3 linked regions of the Homo sapiens genome follow. The protein of the gene in region 2 purifies or fractionates together with the protein of the main gene of each other region. This does not show direct contact. Each region holds a gene or a part of one and is shown on either strand. Other genes may lie near its edges.

Evidence for each region. Proteins that work in one complex are often made in the same cells at the same time.
Region 1: the proteins of MAF1 (region 2) and POLR3E purify together in Homo sapiens (affinity purification with mass spectrometry; 2 studies listed by BioGRID and IntAct, with this or other methods). This does not show direct contact.
Region 3: the proteins of MAF1 (region 2) and POLR3B purify together in Homo sapiens (affinity purification with mass spectrometry; 2 studies listed by BioGRID and IntAct, with this or other methods). This does not show direct contact.

The regions. Positions count from the first base shown.
Region 1 is NC_000016.10:22,300,391-22,307,416, forward strand, and holds part of POLR3E (DNA-directed RNA polymerase III subunit RPC5), read left to right. Parts: intron 1-2,540; 5' UTR 2,541-2,578; coding exon 2,579-2,614; intron 2,615-4,765; coding exon 4,766-4,816; intron 4,817-7,026. UniProt on the Homo sapiens protein: DNA-dependent RNA polymerase catalyzes the transcription of DNA into RNA using the four ribonucleoside triphosphates as substrates.
Region 2 is NC_000008.11:144,100,353-144,107,486, forward strand, and holds the start of MAF1 (repressor of RNA polymerase III transcription MAF1 homolog), read left to right. Parts: upstream 1-4,108; 5' UTR 4,109-4,506; intron 4,507-5,287; 5' UTR 5,288-5,331; coding exon 5,332-5,414; intron 5,415-5,516; coding exon 5,517-5,645; intron 5,646-5,723; coding exon 5,724-5,889; intron 5,890-5,990; coding exon 5,991-6,112; intron 6,113-6,202; coding exon 6,203-6,322; intron 6,323-6,482; coding exon 6,483-6,611; intron 6,612-6,735; coding exon 6,736-6,757; 3' UTR 6,758-7,134. Other genes in the region: sharpin, read right to left, coding at 2,699-2,873, 3,201-3,401. UniProt on the Homo sapiens protein: Plays a role in the repression of RNA polymerase III-mediated transcription in response to changing nutritional, environmental and cellular stress conditions to balance the production of highly abundant tRNAs, 5S rRNA, and other small non-coding RNAs with cell growth and maintenance.
Region 3 is NC_000012.12:106,451,730-106,458,755, reverse strand, and holds part of POLR3B (DNA-directed RNA polymerase III subunit RPC2), read right to left. Parts: intron 4,255-7,026; coding exon 4,045-4,254; intron 1,619-4,044; coding exon 1,460-1,618; intron 1-1,459. UniProt on the Homo sapiens protein: Catalytic core component of RNA polymerase III (Pol III), a DNA-dependent RNA polymerase which synthesizes small non-coding RNAs using the four ribonucleoside triphosphates as substrates.

The sequences.
Region 1 (7,026 bases), on a different chromosome or scaffold from region 2:
CCAGATGTACTATCCAGAGGAAGGAGCTCCAGCTCTCTAGCTGACAGGGCACCTCAGCCTCCCTGATCCCTGGCAGGGCAGAGGCCAACAGGGCATAGCAATAGCCAAGAAAGAACAATTGCGTCTTGGGAACCTCCCAGGCCCCAGCCTCTCAGTTGTCCACTGCCCAGCTGCAGAGAAGGCAGGAGCTTGACATATCTGTGGCACTTGGCAGCCGGTGCAGATGGGGTGAGGCCTTGGGCTCTCCGCTCTACACTGCCCTCTGTCTGCACAGCAGACAGTCGAGATGCACTGAAACTGTCCAGATGCGACTCCTGATTTTCATTCCATCCTCCATCTCTGGGACTGTTACGATAGCTGTTTCCCTGAAGTTTCTCTTTCTACCCGCTCCATGTCTTCCTCTGCCCGAAATCCTTCTGTAGCTTCCTATTAAATAGCATTCCCATGGTTCATTTATTTAGACAACAAACATGTATTGAGTGCCTGCTGTGTACTAGGCACTTGGGGTACCACAAGGGACAAAATAGACCAAAATCTCTGCCTTCACATAGCTTACAGCTTAGTGGCAATAGAGATGGGCACAGATGCAGAGCTGTAAACTGTCACATGGTGATAGACACCTGCTATGGAGAAAACCAGAGCAGAGAAGGGAATTGAGGGGTGGGGGAGGCAGTTTGCAATGTGATTTGGAGAGGGAAGGTCTTAGCCACAAGGTGACATTTGAGCAAAAACCGGAAAGAGGTGAAGGGGGGACCATGAGGTTATCGGGGGGGTAGAGCAGCTACAAAGCCCCAGAAGTGGGTTTGGAGCAGAGAGGAGGGTAGGAGGCTTGTGGGAGATGAGGTCTGGCAGGTCAAGGGGCAGGAGATTGTTTAGGGTTTACATGGGATGATAAAGACTTTGGCTTTTGTCTAGGTGTGGTGGCTCATGCCTGTAATCCCAGCACTTTGGGAGGCCAACACAGGTGAATCACTTGAGGCCAGGAGTTCGAGACCAGCCTGGCCAATATGGCAAAGCCCCGTCTCTACTGAAAATACAAAAATTAGCTGAGCGGATGGTGCATGCCAATTATTGCAGCTACTTGGGAGGCTGAGGCAGGAGAATCACTTGAACCTAAGAAGCAGAGGTTGCAGTGAGTCAAAATCACGGCAGAGCACTTCAACCTGGGTGACAGAGCAAGACATGTCTTAAAAATAAATAAATATTAGATAGTTCAAATGTTAAGTAGATCAGACAAAAATCATGCTGGTCTCAGCCGGGCGCAGTGGCTCACGCCTGTAATCCCAGCACTTTGGGAAACCAAGGCGGGCAGATCACCTGAGGTCAGGAATTCAAGACTAACCTGGCCAACATGGCAAGTCCCTGTCTCTACTAAAAATAGAAAAATTAGCCGGGCCTGGTGGTGCATGCCTGTAATCCCAGCTACTTGGGAGGCTAAGGCAAGAATCGCTTGAACCCGGGAGGCAGAGGTTGCAGTGAGCCGATCGTACCACCGCACTCCAGCCTGGGTGACAGAGCAAGACTCCGTCTCAAGAAAAAAAAAAAAAAAAATTCATGCTAGTCTCACCCAAGAGCAGAGGTTTGGGAACTGCTGAGGCCTGGGGGTGCCTGAGTACCATCCTACCTATGACCACCCCTCTTCTCTTTGGGTATGTGAAGGGGCAGACCAGCTGAAATACTCAACCTGCCCCGTGGAGACCTACAGCCTTCCCTCTTCCTGGAATTTCTCCTCCCCTCTGTTGTCATGACTTGCCCAAAGCTCTCTCTTCTTCCAGGCGCACCTAACGTGCCTCCTCCCCAGCAGAAAGGCCTTTCCCGCCTCTCAACTCCCCTACCTGTACCTGTCACCTGAGGTCAGACAGCCTGGATTTGAAGTCCAGTTCATCATCCTGCTTGCTATGTGACTTTGGGTCAAAATGCACACAGTATCTCTGAGTTCCAGTCTGTTCATTATAAAACAGTGACAATCACCACACCTCATAGGGTCATTGTGTTGAATACAGGACAGAAGAGTGTGTGAAGAGGTCATTTTTAGACCAAAAACACAGAAGAGTCATCTCACTCAGGATTCGAGTTAAAGTCAGCTTGAAAATCAAATATCAGAGAGCTTTGGACTGTCTGTCTTCCTGTTCAACTTCTGGCTCCTCTTTAAAGCGTCCCCAGGGCCCTCAGTTCTCCAGTGTTTTAATCATGGCTGGGACCAGCCAACCTCTATCCTTCTGTCTGGCAGTGAATTCTCTGTGAGCAGAGAAGAAACCATTAAAGCCAGTCATTTGCCTTTCCCCGCAGGTGCAGCCCACACTTGTTGGCTTGGTCTACCCGCTTGCACCCGCTGCTTGAGTGTTTCTTTTTTTCTTTATTTCTTCTGGCTGATGGGGTATAGGGTTGGTCATCCATTGTTGACTTCAATGTAGATGTAGAAAGAAGGTCAGTTGGTTGGTTGTGGGCTCCCCCTCCCAGTGCAGGGCCTGTTGCAGAATAGGCACAAGGAAATGTTGGTTGAACGACTGATGGTCCCAGTCTCTCGCCCTCCTTTGCAGATCGAGCTGAAGGACTGCGCGGCTGGCTCTCCTCTAGTATGGCCAATGAAGAGGATGACCCAGTTGTACAGGAGGTAACTGCTGCTCTCTGTCCCCTGCCGCCGGGGCTACAGGCAGTGGAATTGGGTCCTTTCCATGTGTCCTCAGGCCAGTCTGGGACCTGTTGATGTTCTGGGACCCCTAACCCTTGCTGTTCCCTCTGCCTGGTCCCCTCTGCTGTCCCCCAGACCCCTGCGTGGCTGACCTCTCCCTTCCTTCAGGTCTCTGATCTGGCATCACCTCATCAGGGAGGCCTTCCCTGACTGCCCTTCCACACCCAGCTCCCCTCCTGCACCCTCCCGTGCCTCTCTCTGCCCTTACCTTGGCGGTAACTCATACTTGGCCTAGCCCCCGTCATCCCCTAGATATCAGTTGATTGCTTTCTTTCCCGTCCACTGCTGTGCCGCAAAGCCGAGTATAGTGCCTGGCACCCAGGTACCCGGCGACTATTTGGTGAATGAATGAATGAATAAATGGGCTCAGCAGTCCCTCCTTCCCAGGCTTACGCAGATGTAGTCATTCAGCAGCTGTTCACTGGACCACTGTGTGCTGGGGGCTGTGACACATCAGTGAGCAGGGCAGGGTCCCCTTCCCTGGGAAGCTAATGGGCTGTGGGCAAGACTGATGAGGCAGGAGTCTCCGGGTACAGGCAGTGGGAGGCAGATTTCCCTTTTTTTTTTTTTTTTTTGGAGACAGAGTCTTGCTCTGTTGCCCAGGCTGGAGTTCAGTGGTGCCATCTCGGCTCACTGCAACCTTCACCTCCCAGGTTCAAGCGATTCTCCTGCCTCAGCCTCCTGAGTAGCTGGGATCACAGGTGCCCATCACCACGCCCGACTAATTTTTTTTTTTTTTTTTTTTTTGAGGCGGAGTCTCACTCTGTCTCCCAGGCTGGAGTGCAGTAGTGTTATCTTGGCTCACCGCAGTCTCTGCCTCTGGGTTCAAACGATTCTTGTGCCTCAGCCTCCTGAGTAGCTGGGATTACGGGCGCCCGCCACTACACCTGGCTAATTTTTGTATTTTTAGTAGAGATGGGATTTCACCATGATAGCCAGGCTGGTCTCGATCTCCTGACCTCAAGTGATCACCCACCTTGGGCCTCCCAAAGTGCAGAGATTACAGGCATGAGCCACCATGGCCGGCACAGGTTTCCCTTCTTAGAGAAAGCTGTTGATAGTCAAACTCACCTTTCAGAATCCTTTTAACCCAGGACTTAGACCTTTGGAAGGCAAAAGGCAAAAAGTAACTGCATCTGCCTTCAGCCTCCTTATATGCGGAGCCTGACCTCCAGTGGGAAGGGCAGGGGCAAGGAGAAGGTCCTCGGAGATGAATAGAGGTGGTTTTTCCTTGCTTGGGGGATGTTGCTAAGTTATTAGATGTGAGTTATTTAGATGCATTTAAGCTGCATCTACACTGCAGTAGCAGGAGTTACAACAGGGGGGTTGGTGATGGGATAGAAGAGTCCAAGGGACTCCGAGGACAGAGGCAGTGCCCTCTGCAGCCAGGGGGCCTGGAATGCTTCCTGCCCAAGTTGTGCCTCAGCCAAGTCCTTGGAGGAGCGAGCAGTCAAGGCTCAGGGGAGGCATGTGTGAAGGGCTCTGTAGGTATAGGGAAAAGCATGTGCAAAGGCCCAGGGGTAGGAGAGCATGTGGTTTATAGGAGGAGTTAGGAAGCAGGAAGGTAAACTGCTGCGTGGCGGGGTGGGGGTGGTTAGTGTTGGGAAGAAAGGAAGTGGAGCCATCAGTCACAAAGGGCCTTGCAGACCCCTTAAGAAGGGGTGACAGGCTGGTCCAGGAGGGGCAGGTGGAGGGCCCAGCCAGGAGGCACAGGCCTAGGTGAGCCCTCGCCTGCCTGCCTCTCAGAAGAGCATTTGCCCAGGCTGTAGGACGTTTCCCGATCAGTGCAGCCCCAGGGAAGATGTGTGCTTACTGGGGGATTGTGAACTTGGGTGGGGGTACCAGGTGAACTCTTGCCCTGGTTCCCCTGGGAGCTTTCAGGAGGGATTCCTGAATATACCCAGTGTGCAGCCTTGGATCCGCTTGCTTTTAGCATGAGCTGAGCTATTTCCTCCTTCCCCAAACTGCTTCCCTGAGCCACTGCCCTTAACTGAAGCTGGAAGCGCTGGCATAGCCCGGGGAGGTCAGCACTGTGTCCAGTCTCCCGGTTAAGTCGTCTTCCCTTCTTCCCAGATCGATGTGTACTTGGCCAAGAGTCTGGCGGAAAAGCTGTATCTATTTCAGGTAATTATGGGACTTGAAGGTAAAGAGGGGAGAAGCAGGTGTGGGTGGGTGGTGTGGACTCAGGAACACGGGCAGGAAACGATGGGAAACCTCAGCTAGGGTTCTCGGTGTGGAGAGTGTCATGGGGTCTCTTTGCTTTCGTGGGTGGGTTAATATTGGTCTCATTTCAAAGATGGGAAAACTGAAGGAACACAGGAGAGGCAGAAGTGTGCAGCAGTTAAAGCTGGGGCTCTGGGGTCAGACCGGATTGAGATCCAACTCCATCACACCATAGCTGCGAGACCGTGGGCAAGTTTCTTAATCCTTCTGTGCCTCACTTTCCTCACTTGCAAAGTGGTGATGGTGATAATGCCTGCCTCATAGGTCCCCAGGAGGACAGGCTGAGTCCACAGTGAAGTGTTTAGGATGCCGCCTGGCAGAGAGTTGGTGCCAGTGATGATGGCCGCTGTTGTCATGGAGGCTCCAAGGGGCAGCTCCATGGCAGCGTCTGTGAGCCCTCAGTCCTGCCAGCTGCGAGGGCCCCGGGTTGCTACCTCTGCCCCCTCCCCTTGCTGCTGGGCCAGCAGCTTGTCATTGTGGCCAACATGTATTGAGCATTGACCGTATGCAGACTGTTGAAAGCATTTACCTCAGTTACCTCTTTAACCCCACAATAACCCTATGGTGGTGATTATTACATTTTATAACCGATATATTGAGATAGAATTTACACACCACACAGTTTCCCCATTTCAGTGTGTAATGCAATGGATTTTAGTCTACTCATGGGGCTGTGCAACCAGCGCCACAGTCTGTTTTGGGACAGTTTTGTCCCCCTTTAAAGGAACCCCTTGCCTATTAGCGATCAGTCTGTGCCCCCCATTCCCACCTCCAACCCCAGGCAACCATTCCCCTTATTTTCTGTTTATGGTTTTGCCTATTCCGGACTTTTCACATAGCTGGAATCATGCAGTATGTGGCCTGCTGTGATTGGCTGCTCTCACTTTGCATGATGTTTTCAGGGCTCATCCACATGGTAGCTATAGCCTGCATCAATATTTGAGCTTTTCTTTTTTTTGTTTGTTTGTTTTGAGACACAGTCTTGCTCTGTTGCCCAGGCTGGAGTGCAGTGGCTTGATTGCGGCTCACCACAACCTCTGCCTCCCAGGCTCAAGTGATTCTGCCTCAGCATCCTGAGTAGTTGGGACTACAGGCACGCGCCACAAGCCCGGCTAATTTTTGTATTTTTAGTAGAGATGGGGTTTCACTATGTTGGCCAGCCTGGTCTCGAACTCCTGACCTTGTGATCTGCCTGCCTCGGCCTCCCATAGTGCTGGGATTACAGGTGTGAGCCACCGCTCCCAGCCAATATTTGATCTTTTACTGATGAATAATGTTCCATTGTATGGGAGACCACAGTTTGTTTATCCATTCATCAGCTGATGGGTATTTGGGTTATTTCTACTTTTTGGCTATTATAAATAATGCCACTGTGGACATTCACATAGAAGTTTTTATGATGAACGTGAATTCTCATTTCTTCTAGGTATATGCCTGGTAGCAGAATTGCTGGGTCTGCGTTTAGCTTTTTGAGGCACTGCTGGGCTGCTCTGCCCCATGTTGCCTTCCCACAGTTAGAGTCAGTGTTCATATCCCATGATGCACATGAGAACGTGAGGCACAGGGAGGCCTTCACGGGCACGGAGGCCTGGGGCATGCCACAGCAGCAATGTTGTAAGCCTGTGCTGGGAGGGCCTGGCCTCCACTCCCTGGGGTTCACCCTTATGGGCCGTGGGAATGGGGCCTGTCCTGTGTGCCTGCTCACCCTGTTTCCTTGACTGGCTGCAAAGTGATGGTGGAGGTGCCAGTGACCCCCGTGTGTCCAGAGTTCCAAACCCTGAGCCACCATCGGCTCTGTTTGCCTCCTCCGTGCTCACAGCGGCCTTGGGAGGTGAGGATGCTTAGCCTCAGGGAGGCGAGGTGCCTGCCTGAGTCCACAGTTAGCAAGGGGAAGGATGAGGACTGGAAGCCAGGCCTGTGATTTCAGAACCTGCGCCCTTCAGCCTTCCCACCCCCAGTCAGGTGATCTCAGAACTGCCCCCAGCCCCAGCCCAGGAAGCAGGGAGGAGTCACGGCTTTGCTGTGTGAGTGAGCTTTTAGGAAATGACCGTCTCCTTGCGCTAGAATGTAGCTGATCTGAAAGGGCCTATTTTCCGCACTGCCATACCTCC
Region 2 (7,134 bases):
GCCAGCCAGGGATGCCTCACAGCAGAACCAAAGCAGGCCCTCAGTGGCCCTGCAGTCAGGGTGGCCTCTTGGAGCCCTTGGGGACCTCCCCTCTCCGGGCTCCCTGACCCACACCTGGGCTGCCAGCACTCCAGACAAGCCACTGCCCTGGGCGTCTTCAGAGCTGAGCACCCTGCTGACTCACCTTCTTACCCGCCCTGTGAGGCCCAGCCCACTGCAATGGGGGGGTCCCCATCCAGTGCTGACACAGCTCCCGTGGTCTCAGGCCCACTATATTCTACCATCTCCCTACTAGGATAAGCAGGGCCTTCCACGCACCCAGCGCTGTTCCTGGCCCCGGCCCCGGCCCCGGCCCCCACTGAACCTCAAGGATCACTTATACATGCTCACCTCAGGGTTTGTTTGCTGCTTCCTTGGTCACATGGTTCATGCCATGACCTTCAAATTTCACTCCAGTGTCACCTCAATGAGGCCTTCCCTGCCACCACTTTTTTTTTTTTTTGAGACGGAGTTTCACTCGTTGCCCAGGCTGGAGTGCAGTGGTGTGATCTCGGCTCACCGCAACCTCCGCCTCCTGGGTTCAGGCGATTCTCCTGCCTCAGCCTCCTGAGTAGCTGGGATCACAGGCATGCACCACCACGCCCGGCTAATTTTGTATTTTTAGTAGAGACGGGATTTCTCCATGTTGGTCAGACTGGTCTTGAACTCCCGACCTCAGGTGATCTGCCCACCTCGGCCTCCCAAAGTGCTGGGATGATAGGCGTGAGCCACCGCGCCCGGCCCCTGCCACCGTTTTAAACAGCAATCCTCCCAGCTCCACCATTCTCATTCCCACACCATCTAACAGACTTTCTTTTTTAAAAAACTCTACAGTAATTTTATTATTTTTGTTTTTTTTTTTGGAGACAGGATCTCGCTCTGTCACCCAGGCTGGAGTGCAGTGGCACGATCACAGCTCACTGCAGCCTAGAACCCCTGGGCTCAAGTGATCCTCCCATCTCAACCTCCCGAATAGCTGGGATTACAGGCAGACACGACTACACTCAGCTAATTTTTTTTTTTTTTTTTTTTTGTGAGATGGAGTCTCGCTCTGTTGCCCAGGCTGGAGTGCAGTGGTGCAATCTCGGCTCACTGCAAGCTCCACCTCCTGGGTTCACGCCCTTCTCCTGCCTCAGCCTCCCGAGTAGCTGGGACTATAGGTCCCCACCACCACACCCAGCTAATTTTTTTTTTTTTTTTTTTTTTTTAGTAGTCAGGGTTTCACCGTGTTAGCCAGGATGGTCTCGATCTCTTAACCTCATGATCTGCCCACATCGGCCTCCCAAAGTGCTGTGATTACAGGTGTGAGCCACCGTGCCCGGCCCACTCAGCTAATTTTTAAATTTTTTGTATGTTGCCCAGCCCTGTACTTATTTTATATGTCTGCCTCCTCCCCTCTAAAAATGCAAGCTCCAATAGGATGGGGATGGGAGGTTTTGTTCATGCCAAAGGAGTACCTGGGACAGGGCAGCTGCTGAATACATATGCTTGGTGAATGACTAAAGAGAGCTTAGCTCCTTTTATAAACCCTGAGTTGCTTGAGTCTCTCTTACATCACTGTCTGGCTGTCTTCCTACCCCTCTGGCAGCTCTGCTTATCTCGTTTGTGGGCTGCCCTCTATCTGGGAGCCCCATACTACCTAGTCCTTCATGTTTCTCAGTCTCAACTGCTAACTCTTCCATTTAAGCAGCCATGTGAGCCAGGGGCAGTGGCTCATGCCAATAACAGCTACTTAGGCTGAAGCAGGAGGATCACCGTAGACCAGGAGTTCAAGGCTCCAGTGAGTTAGGGTCACGCTACTGCACTCCAGTCTGGGTGAGAGAGGGAGTCTTTGTCTGCAAAAAACCTCCCAAGCAGCCATGAAACTCAGCTAATTCCATCTTCTTTTTTTTTTTTTTTTGAGATGGAGTCTTGCTCTGTCACCCAGGCTGGAGTGCAGTGGCAAGATCTCAGCTCACTGCAACCTCTGCCTCCGGGTTCAAGTGATTCTCCTGCCTCAGCCTCCCCAAGTAGCTGGGACTACAGGCACACGCCACCACGCCTGGCTAATTTTTGTATTTTTAGTAGAGACAGGGTTTCACCTTGCTGACCAGGCTGGTCTCAAACTCCTGACATCAGGTGATCACCCACCTCGGCCTCCCAAAGTGCTGGAATTACAGGCGTGAGCCACCCCACCCGGCCACTAATTCCATCTTCTAAGCATCTCTAGAAACATCCTTCTCCCCAACCCTATCTGCACCAACCCTTGCCACTGCAGAACTCTGTCTTAAGCAGGAGGTATCTGAGTCTGTCACTCTCCCACTCCTGTCACTCTCCTGCTGCTCTTGGGATGATGTCTTCTCACACAGGTCCTGACCCTGCCTGCTCTGCCTCTTCATGCTTGCCTCTCATCCTTCCTGAGGGTTAAGGAAGTGCAGGCTGAGGTTCCAGGGCTTCCTGGTGGAGGCTGCAACTTGTGCTGGCTGGGGCCTCAGATGGTGTAGGAGACTGACTCCAGCAGCCACTCCAAGTACTCCAAGCTACTCCAGGCTCCACCTACTCCCTCCTGGAAGCCTTCCCAGACATCCAGCAGTGGGGAAGGTGGATCCAACTTCCCCAACCAGGACTGGGGGGCCAAGGCTATTCCAAATTGTAATTGTATCCATTACAGGGCACTGACCATTCTGTCCTTCCACGGTGGCACCTCGGACTAGGACTGCCCACCGCTGAGCTTCCTGAGGGTTGAGGAAGTGCAGGCTGAGGGTTCCAGGCCCTCCTGGTGGAGGCTGTAGCTCGTGCTGGGTGGGGCCTCGGATGGTGTAGGAAACTGACTCCAGGGGCCACTCCAAATTAACCTGAGAAGAGGGAGAGTCCAGGCTCAGGGCGTCCCCCCGCCCTACATCGCACGAGGAGCAAAGAAATACAAGGTAACATTTATAGACCATTTACACGGTCCTAAGCCCTGTACGCCTATCATCAAATCCTCACAATAGCCCTGTAAAGTAGGTCCAGGTAGGTCCCAGTAGGTCCGAGCGTCACCCCCATTTCACGGACGAGAAAACAGAAGCAAAGAAACATAACTGCTTAAGGGCACCCAGGTGGCAAGCGGAGGGGCCTAACTTTGGGCTCCGTGCCCTGCCCGGGCCAAGAGGACTGACCGCGCGCCCTCCGCCCCCACTCACCGCCCCAGGTCCCGCGCCCAGCAGCTCCAGCCGGAAGCGCCCAGGCCGCTCAGGGTCCGCGCTCAGCTGCAGCCTCCGCAGCTGTGCCTCGGCGTCTGGCCCGGCGCCCAGCGGCCTCACCGCGGCGTGCACAGCCAAGAGCACTGCGGCGGAGCCCAAGTCCGAGGCCGCCGCCGCCGCCCCGCCCGCTGGCGGCGCCATCTCCGGTCCGGCCGGGTCCCACCCCTCCGAGCGCGCTTCCGTGGGATCGGGCCGCTGAGCCCCCTCCGCCGGTCGGAAACACGGGCCGCGAACCTGGGGTTCCGGGCGCGCCCAGAGCGTCGGGCCTGGGACGGCGCCGAGTGGTGCACTCTGGCCAAGCCTGCCCCGCTGGCTTTGCCCACAAATGGACACGGCCCGAGGGTCTCCGGACACCGGCTGGGCGAGGCTGGCGGCGTGTACGAGGCTGGGGCAGGGCGGCCGAGGCGCTCACGTTAGAGCTGGTCTTTGGGGGCGAAGGGTCAGGGGGCGAAGCACCGGCCACAACTGAAGGCGGACGCGGCCTCTTCGCCCCAGGGGCTCGGCGGACGTAGATGCATCCAGCGTGCGACTATCCCAGCGCCTAACGGCAGCTGGACTTCGCTCCCGGGACCTCCAATGGGCTGCCACCTTCGCCCGCAGACCCCAGCCCCCGCCACGCCCACACGTCGCACTAGGTTGGCCCGCGCCTCACTGGTTACGGGGTCGACCCCCCTAGGGGGCGGAGCTAGAGAGGCCACGGCCAATGAACGCCGGGGGTAAGCGGGTTAGTACGACGAGAAGAGTGACAGACAGGCTCCATAACCAGTAGACGTAGAAGGCAGAACTGAGTGGCGGGTACGGCACCCGATGGCTATTCGAGCTCTCGATCTCGGAGACTGGAGCGGGCCATTCAGAGGCGCGGGGCCGGGCCCGGCGGACGCTTGTTGTTGTCCGGCCGGGGGAGGCGGAGGTCGCTCGCTCGCTCGCTCGGCTCGCTGACTCGCCGGAGCGCTCTGTGGCGGTCGGCGGCAGGTCGGTCGCGAGAGCGGGCTCTGTGGAAGGGGGCGAGGCTATGTCGCGGTGGCAGCCCGGATGGGCCGGCAGGGCCGGGAGTAACGGGACGTCGCCGCGGAGCTTCTTCCCCCGGATACAGTGCGGCCCGAGCGGAGGCCGCGGCGCCGCCCTCCGATCTTGAAGAGCCCGCGCTGCGCGGAGCCCGCCCCCGCCTGCGCACCGGCACCGACGCGGAGCGACCCAGCCCAGCCAGACCCGGCCCGGCGCGGCCTGATCTAACCCAGCCAGGCAGGTGGGTGTCCGCCCTGCGTCCCGCGCCGTCTGCGTACCCGGAACCACAGCCCCCAGCAGGCCTCGCGCGGCGCGCTGCCTCCTGGGATTTGTAGTTCCACCGCGGCTTGGCTGGTGCCCGACGTGGCCCAGGCGGGCGCTGCCTGGTGACTGCAGCGCCCCAGCGGGGCCGAGGGACCGCCCTCCTAGGCGTCTGGAGAAACTAGGCAATTTTTCCGGGTAGAGTGGAGGAACCTGTAGTTTTCCTCTCCCCGGGCCAGAAAGTAGCCAAAACGAAAGAGCGCCCGCCCAGGTGACCGCAGGGCCCGGAGTCCCAGGTGTCCTGGTTCCTAACCGGGATGCAGCCTCTTACCTTGGCTGAGGAGCCCAGCCAGCCTGAGGGAGACTGCAGGAGTCACGTCCCGTTGCGGACTCAAGAGTTACCCCCATGGTGGCTGGAGCTCTTTTGGAGTGGGCGTGGAGATGGGGAATGGGAATGTTGAGCAACAATCTCAGCCAGCAGCCCCAGGGTGAGCAGGGTCCCCGGTGGTCTAGTCTAGTCCCAGAACTCGCGTGTTCTGCAGGGGGTATGGCTGACCTGGAGCCTGGACTTACCACCCTCAGGTAAAACAGGATCTCTGTCACCTCTCCTGGCCGGGCAGAGAGGGGAGCTCCTGATGTGCAGCCTGGACAGAGGCCAGACTCAGCTTGTTCCTAGCGGCTCCACTTAGTGGGTAGGAGGGCTGAAGGCAGGGCCCCAAGGGGCCAGATAGATACCCATGGTCTGGTCTCTCACTCCCCAGGCAATACTAGCCCCTCTGGAGCACGGAGCTCCTTCCCCAAAGACATGAAGCTATTGGAGAACTCGAGCTTTGAAGCCATCAACTCACAGCTGACTGTGGAGACTGGAGATGCCCACATCATTGGCAGGTGAGGCAGGCTGGGGGGGCTGGCATCTCGGAGGTCACACTGCCGCGCCCTTCAGTGGAACCTGGGGGAAGCATGCTTCATGGTTCTCTCTGCATCCTATAGGATTGAGAGCTACTCATGTAAGATGGCAGGAGACGACAAACACATGTTCAAGCAGTTCTGCCAGGAGGGCCAGCCCCACGTGCTGGAGGCACTTTCTCCACCCCAGACTTCAGGACTGAGCCCCAGCAGGTGAGCCATGGTGGGGCCTACCTGGGGCTGGGGGTTGAGGGGAGGTGATGGGCCCAGCTGATGGTTCTGTCTGTGCAGACTCAGCAAAAGCCAAGGCGGTGAGGAGGAGGGCCCCCTCAGTGACAAGTGCAGCCGCAAGACCCTCTTCTACCTGATTGCCACGCTCAATGAGTCCTTCAGGCCTGACTATGACTTCAGCACAGCCCGCAGCCATGAGTTCAGCCGGGAGCCCAGCCTTAGCTGGGTGAGGGTCAGGTGGAGGGAAGGGACCCACAGCCACCCCACTGTCCTTCCCCACTTTGGGTAGCCCTGGGCTCCTGTCACCCTGACTGTGACCTGCCCTAGGTGGTGAATGCAGTCAACTGCAGTCTGTTCTCAGCTGTGCGGGAGGACTTCAAGGATCTGAAACCACAGCTGTGGAACGCGGTGGACGAGGAGATCTGCCTGGCTGAATGTGACATCTACAGGTGGGCCGGCATCCCTGCAGATGGCCTCCAGGCCTCCAGGTTTGTGGGGCACTTGGCGCCTCACACCACCTGTCACCCTATACTCCCCAGCTATAACCCAGACTTGGACTCAGATCCCTTCGGGGAGGATGGTAGCCTCTGGTCCTTCAACTACTTCTTCTACAACAAGCGGCTCAAGCGAATCGTCTTCTTTAGCTGCCGTTCCATCAGGTGGGCACCCCCCGCCTCCTCCCCCACCTCCCTGTTGGGCCGATACAACTTCCCCAGCTGTGCCATCTCCACCCAGCTTTGCCCTCCCTGAACATCCTCCCTGGGGCCAGCAGCAGGCCTGGGTAGGGGTCCTGAAACTGGTTTCCCTGCCTCCCCTCAGTGGCTCCACCTACACACCCTCAGAGGCAGGCAACGAGCTGGACATGGAGCTGGGGGAGGAGGAGGTGGAGGAAGAAAGCAGAAGCGGGGGCAGTGGGGCCGAGGAGACCAGCACCATGGAGGAGGACAGGTGTGTGATGGGGGCCATGACCCGGGTCCTTGAAGCCTGGAGTGGGTACAACAGGGTGGGGGCCTCCTCTACTTGGTCTAAGTGGTGGCTCCTGAAGGCCCACTGTGTGCCAACCTCCGCCCAGGGTCCCAGTGATCTGTATTTGATGAGGAGGAGCCGAGGCCCCAGCTTCATCCAGCTTCAACCAATGCCTGGACCTGTCCACCTGAGAGGCCCCTGGGGCCTCCCCAGCTGCTGGCCAGACCCTGGCGCTGCCACAGTCCTGGCACTGCCCAAGGCCATACCTGCCTAGCCCTTTGGCTCCATCCTGTGGATGCCCACTCACCCCTCAGACTCCTGCTGCCCATGCTGTGGCCGGACTTGTCAGCAGGGGGCCTGGTGGGAGGAGCGACTGCCCTGCCCAAATGAACTGCCACAGCAGGGACAGCTGGACCGCAGAGTTTATTTTTGTATTTCTACTGGGCCTGCACACTCCAGCCCAAAGGGTCTGTGGCCGGAGGCCCCACGAGCAGGCCCCAGCAGT
Region 3 (7,026 bases), on a different chromosome or scaffold from region 2:
TCACAGCGCGTATTTTCCAAGCCATACTGACCAGTGTTAGGGTGAGAAAAATTCTCCAAGAAACAAAGGCAGAGGGAGGGAGGAGAAGTCGCGTACTCTGTGTCTCTTTGGAACCACAGCTTGATAAAGCATTCACCGCCCACAGGCCAACCATGACAAAGTCATGTGGATTTCCCTCCTCACAAACTGGGTTCTCTCCACCTTCACCACAGCTCCTGGTACCAGGTCTACCTTCTATTTTAGTGCCCTTCTAATCCTTTTTCTACACTGTAGTCAGAATGATCATTCAAAACACATATCTGAATATATCATTGCTTTTAGGATCATAATGAAAATAGTATCATGGGCTCGGCATGGTGGCTCAAGCACTTTGGGAAGCCGAGGTGGGTGGAGAACTTGAGCCCAGGAGTTCAAGACAAGCCTGGACAAGATGGTAAGACCTCATCTCTACAAAAAATACAAAAAACTATCCAGGCATGGTGGCACGTGCCTATGGGTCCCAGCTATACAGGAGGTTGAAGTGGGAGAATCACTTGAGTCTGGGAGGCAGAGGTTGCAGTGAGCTGAGATTGTGCCACTGCACTCCAGCCTCAGTGACAGACTGAGACCCTGTCTCAAAAATAAAATTAATAAAATAAAATAAAGACAATACTAACATGGTTGCAAGGACTTGCTTACTCTGGCCCCTACCCCTTGCGTCACCCACCAACTCATGTGCACCATGCTTCCCTGCACTCTCTTCTTGTTAGCCACGCTGGTCTTCTTTCAGACCTTTCAACTACCAAGCTCTGGGACCCTTGCACAAGCTTTTCTCATTACTTAGAACATGCTCCCTGATCCTCTTCTTTAGTTAACTCTTCCCTATCCTTCAGATTCCAGCTCACTTCCTCGGGAAAGCCATGCTGATCTTCCCAACAAGGTCAAATTCTCTTGCTATAAAATGGCCTCATAGTTACCTATATGATTCCTTAACCTGGATTTATGCATGATCCTCTGATCAATGTCAGTCTCCTGCACTAGCCTGTGAGACCCATAAGGGCAAGGGCTATTTGTTTCATCAACAAAATGCATTACAAGTTTGTAATTATAATGGAGTCATACCTTTGCAGGGGGATAAAATTCTAAAGTAGTCTGTAAGCTAAATGTGTAAATGAAGAAATACCAGTGCAGATGCAGGGACATAAACTACTCTAAATATTTCCTTAAAGTGGCTTTTCTATTATTCAAAATTATAACTAGAAAATTATAGTTAGCATAGATTACTGATAGGTAAAAACATAGTGTATAGAAAAACAGACTGGAAGGAAATTCATCAAAAATGACCTCATTGGTTGAGTTTGGATGGTGGTTTTATAGGTTGTTACTTTTTTCTGCCCTTTTTGCCAAATATTCAGAAATATTATTGAATAACATATGATGTCAAAAAGTATTAAAATTTTTTCTTTTAAAAGGCTTTTACCTGGAGAACAAATACCATCTGCATCTAAGATTTCATGTCGCCAGATAGGTTTCCTTGTAGCAGCATCCAACATGGGCCCCATCACTTTATCAAAAGTCTGATTGGTGTATCGTTTCAACGTACATTTAGCATTTTTATATACAAGGCAACGCCCAAAGCCTAAAATGAAACCAAGATGGGCATTAGAACCACCAGTAACCCAAAGCTATAAGGAAATATGGATTTGTGCTACTCAACAATCCACTCCACCTCACCCTCCCCCAAATCCCAAAACTTCTCTGTATTTGATAATAATCTGGGACCAGTACAAACCAAATAAAAATCTGATAATCTGAAGAAGCAGCACAGGACTTGTCCCCTACCTACTGTCTGTGTAAACACTGGAATCTCTACAACCATTTTCTGCATGGAATACACCTTGTCATACTGGAGAACGGTGAGAGAAATCTAAGACTGGCGCTGTGATTCTTTCAGAGGACAGAGCCATAGAATATTAGAATTGGAAAGGCCCTTAGAAATCACCTGCTTAACCTATCTGTTTTACAGGCACTAGGAGTGAGGTCTAGAGAAATTAAGTGGCCAAGGTCATCCAAAAAGTTGGCAGCAGAGTTGAGAATTGTGTTGAACAGCACAAGTCCACTGACTCCTGAGCCAGGATACACATCCTTTTGGTGCATAACTTCTGCTAAACTTCCCTGGAAAGTTTTCCTTTTTAAAATTTGGCATTTAGAGCAAGTTCTAAGCCAACAAGTAAAAACAATAATTTTTCTCCAGAGAAGAGACAGAATGAAAAAAGAAATAATCAAATTATTTCAATGGGAAAAATAGTTCTCCTCTGCCCTAAAGATTGGAGTTTAATTACATTTTTAGATTGCATTTATCTAGTGGATGAGGGAAAGGCTGTGAAATCAACTAACAATCTAAACATCAAGAAAAATAAGCTGTCTAGCAATGGATCAGAAAAGAAAAGGAAGAAAAATAAGCAAAAAGGACAGAAGAAAAACCTTTGGGTGGGGCAAAAAAACTCAACCACTGAATCCCTAAAAGAAAAAATCCATGAGTTGTAGAGTTACCCAAAACAGCTGTCATTCCTTCAACACTATAATTTCCTGATTCTGTGGCTGCATTTCTTTCTTTTTTCCCTTTGGCCAAGCAGTTATTTTAAACTGGATTCTCTTACTAATCTCCTCAGGATATACTGAGCCATGCCAGAGTTCACTTAAATAAGAAATGTCTCAGGATTAAATGCCGCTTATTACTGATGAAATAAATGCATGGCAGTAAAATCCTTCACTTAACAATTTTCCACCAAAAACAGAAATCTAAGAATGTGACTTTAGAAATCAATCAGGTAAAAGTGGATTTATAAATAAAATCTCAGGGCTGTAATGTAATTTTTTAAATATGAAGGTGACTGTGAGATGAAGTAACGAATTTCTAAAATTGGACGTCAGATGAAGACATTTGTGTCTTTAAGCAAGGCCGTAGTCATCATGGCTCCTAGGAAATTGTGTATGGCCATAATAAACTCGGCTCAGAATGCCAGCTGGTTTGGAAACATTACATGATCTTGAAATTTCATACAGTAGCCATTAACTGCAACATGCTGGAGTGCAATGTGAATCTTAACTGCATGAAATCAAGAAGTGTTTTCTTCAAAGTGTAAACAGACATTTTATTTACAGGTGATAGCTTAAAAGCTAGGGGATAGTAAACTCAGATCACTGAATTGGGTTGCAGAGTTTCTGACAGACATCACAAAGTCTTCAGATTTCCACATAAACGTTACCAGTTAATCAGAAAGGAAAACATCTAGTTTTAAAGCATGGCTGTTGTCATTTGGAGGAAAAAAAGAGGCATAAATTAAGTGTGGCCAACATTAATGCCAAAGACACATGTCTAGGAGTACTATTATGGCTGCCTAGCAACTACAAAGAGGGAAGGGGAAGGCATAGTGGGTACGCCAGGAAGGAAAAAGAGAAATCGAGATTATGAATAGAGAAGTCAGACTTCAGATCAGGTGATGTCTAACAAACCACGAGGTGGTGACTTGTGAAAGTATTGTCAAAAACAGAAAGAAAAGCAGAAAAACTCCACGCCAGAGTTTGTGGCCGTGTATTTTTAACTTTCGTCACTTGGCCAAAGAAGTTACCAAATTATGAGGTTACACAAATAAGAAACAGCCTTTTACATCCAAATATTGCTACTGCCCTCTCAAACAGGTTTGTTGTTAATAATATGTATCACTAGACACAGTGAAAACACATATTTCATATACTGTAATTCCTGCTGGAAAACAAACACATTCTTACATTTTTTTTCTTTTTGAAGGATTGTCTCACGTAACCAATAAAATAATAAAGGAGAAAAATATTCTGTAGTAGTATGTTTAACAAATTATTTCAATATACTAGTCATTAAAAATGACAAGAAAGCCAACATCAAAACCCAACCACCTCCTGTTTCTATATCATAAAATTCAAATAACTTAAAACTGACATTAACCAAGTGATTTTTACATTAATCATCCCTATATCTAATTCTGCAAAAAGCAACTTTGGTGTTAGTTTTGAAAATTCACTTACCTCTGTCTAAAGAGGCCTTGTTTAAAACAAGAGCATCTTCAATATCATAGCCACTATAGCTCATCACAGCAACTGTTGCATTCTGTCCAGCTGGCAGTTTCTCAAATTCTATCAATTCAATGGTTTTTGTCTTAACCATGGGTTTTTGTGGATATGCTAGTAGATACATGAGAGTATCAATTCTGTTTCGCTGGTTGTATCCTATAGTACCTGCATTGATATGGGAGAAAACAAAATACAACATTCTATTATGTGAAATAATAAGGTAGTAATGAATATAGAGATAAATACATTAACATCACTAATTAAAATGAACAAAATCTTCAGGTTCAACATTTCAAAAGCAATACTCTCATGGTGGCTTAACAACTTGCAAAAGCAACTTTTCTCACTAATATTTAAAGTTCTACAAAGAAGGAAAAATATAAAGTATATTTTAATCTAAATAATTTAGACTTTTTGGATTTACATTATCCCATTTGAGGGATTTAGTTTCCACTGGTTAATTTCACAATCAACAATTCTTTATTTGGTTCTACCGTGTTCCAGGCCTGCTGGGGAGAGGTAATGTAAGAACAACGCCCAGTGTTCACATCCGAGGAGCTTATAAAATGGATAAACAGGTATATTCCATAAAAAGAAATAATTGCAAAAGTTCTAAATGAAAAAGAATACAGGAGAGAAGGGAAGAAAAAGAATGAACAAAGAGGAATTCAAGTGAGAGCAAGGAAGAGTGGATTATGCATTTATTTGATGATTCATGTATTAAGCAGTTAATAAACATCTACTCTGTGCCAAAAACTGGAGATAAAATGAGAAAAGGCTTGGCCCCTTCCTTAAGAAATCTAGGGTACAGCCCAATCAGGGGTGGGCTCTTCCCTCCTTAGCAATCAGTCTTTCCACCTGATTGTTCCTCGGATGGGTGTTATTGGGTCACTGTCAACTGAACATGAAATCAGAATGTTAACCCTTTCTCTCATTTCCCCTTATAAACACACTGGGGTTCATGCACCTGCCTGAAGATGAGTCTTTCAGTCTCCTCGGCTTGTGGACACAGAACTGATGCTACAAAGAGATGTTAAAGTTGGAAAACTCAGGCTTGCTCTACTGCTGAGCTTGAGTGTGGGCTACTGAGCCTCTTTAACTTCTCCTAGGTATCTCTTTTCTCCCCCTGTGAATAGCTAAGGCAGCTTTAAGTCTCTCTCTCTTGCACACGCTTCCATAGTGACACATACACACCACACACACACACTCCGAAGTACCTAAGTGCCATTTCACAGAGTTACACCCTAGGGTATGCAGACACCAAAACTCAGTATTTATTTCCTTTAACTTTTTCTCCATACTCATGTCATTAAATCAATGATGATTTCATTTTGGGGATGAAAATAAGCTATTCAGGCTGGGCGTGGTAGCTCATGCCTGTAATCCCAGCACTTTGCGAGGTCGATGTGGGTGGACTGCTTGAGCTTAGGAGTTCAAGACCAGACTGGGCAACATGACAAAACCATGTCTCTACTAAAAATGCAAAAATTAACGGGGCATGGTAGTCCCAGCTACTTGGGTGGCTGAGGCATGAGAATCGCTTGAGCCCAGGAAGTAGAGGTTGCAGTGAGCTAAGATCATACCACTACACTCCAGCCTGGGCAATAGAGCAAGACCCTGTCTCAAAAAAAAAAAAAAAAGAAGAAAAGAAAAAGAAAATAAACCATTCAAGCAGCAAAAATTACTTGACAATTACTACTGAAAGAAATAGTACATATGTAGGGAATACCTAGTGCAGTGCCATGCTTATTATAGATGCTCAATAAATGTCAAGCAAATTAAATTGAAGAATTCTATTATACTTTTTATGACAGTATGTGCTTAAATCTCTAAAAACTTAAAAAGATTCAGCTGAAAAACAAGTCAAACTGAAACTCATGAACTTTATCAAGGTTGCACTATAAATTGCCAATTGATTTATGTTATTTTAGTGCCAACTAATAAACTGGGCAGGATACCTGGCAATAGATCACTTACTGTTTTAGAAATAAGATTACTACTGCTGGGATTATGGTAAAGTTCACTGACAATAAGTTTGTCCTTTTTTATGAAATCACTTAAAATTTATGTTGAGATTTCAGTTCCAATTGTATACCTTACTCAGCTGGAGACAAGGGTTCAGGCAATGTCCCACCAGGCTGCCAAACATGTCTTCTGAAACCTGAGACACGCATTATTATGCAGCAGGGAAGCATAAATGGCTGCACCTCTAAACAATGGTGAAAGAGACTGGATCCTGCTATAAATTGTGCTACCAGGCCCAGAACATAATTCTCAGGCATTACAACTGACCACTGAATGGATGAACAGCAAAATAGTTTAGCAAATGTTTAGTGCTTATGACATCAAAAAGTTTTCTCTAAAGGCCTTTTAAAGAACTTGTGAGAGTATACATGTACGTGCATTTTTAGCAGCACTGACTATGGGTGTGTAAGTTAAAATGTTAAAATAGAATTTATAAACTATTCTATATCATAAAACTTCAAAATGCTATCAGATTCCCAAATGTTTATAAAAATAATGAATGGCTGACTAACCATTTTGCCAATAAGCAACAGGCAAGCAAATGATAGGGCTTGCCTGTGTGCAGCACACGCTCAAACTTTGATTCCCCTATTAGTATTTTCAGCTTCCTTAAAAAGGGCGTTACATATATATACACACATATAAAATAACACAAGGAGAATATCTATAAGTTGCATTCTACTTCTATTATCCCATTTTGCTGTACTATGGTCTCCAATGATTCCCTTTACTTACTAAGGCATAATCTTTCTAAAAAGCCCTATTTTCTTGATAACAACTTTCTTAAGTCACAAGCTGGCACTACAAGGTAAACAAATGTAAGTTAAAATATTGAAAAAGTGCTCTTTTATAAGGCAGCATGAAAAAGCTTGGTAAGGAAGGATGTAAACAGCTTAGAAAATGTATGCTGAA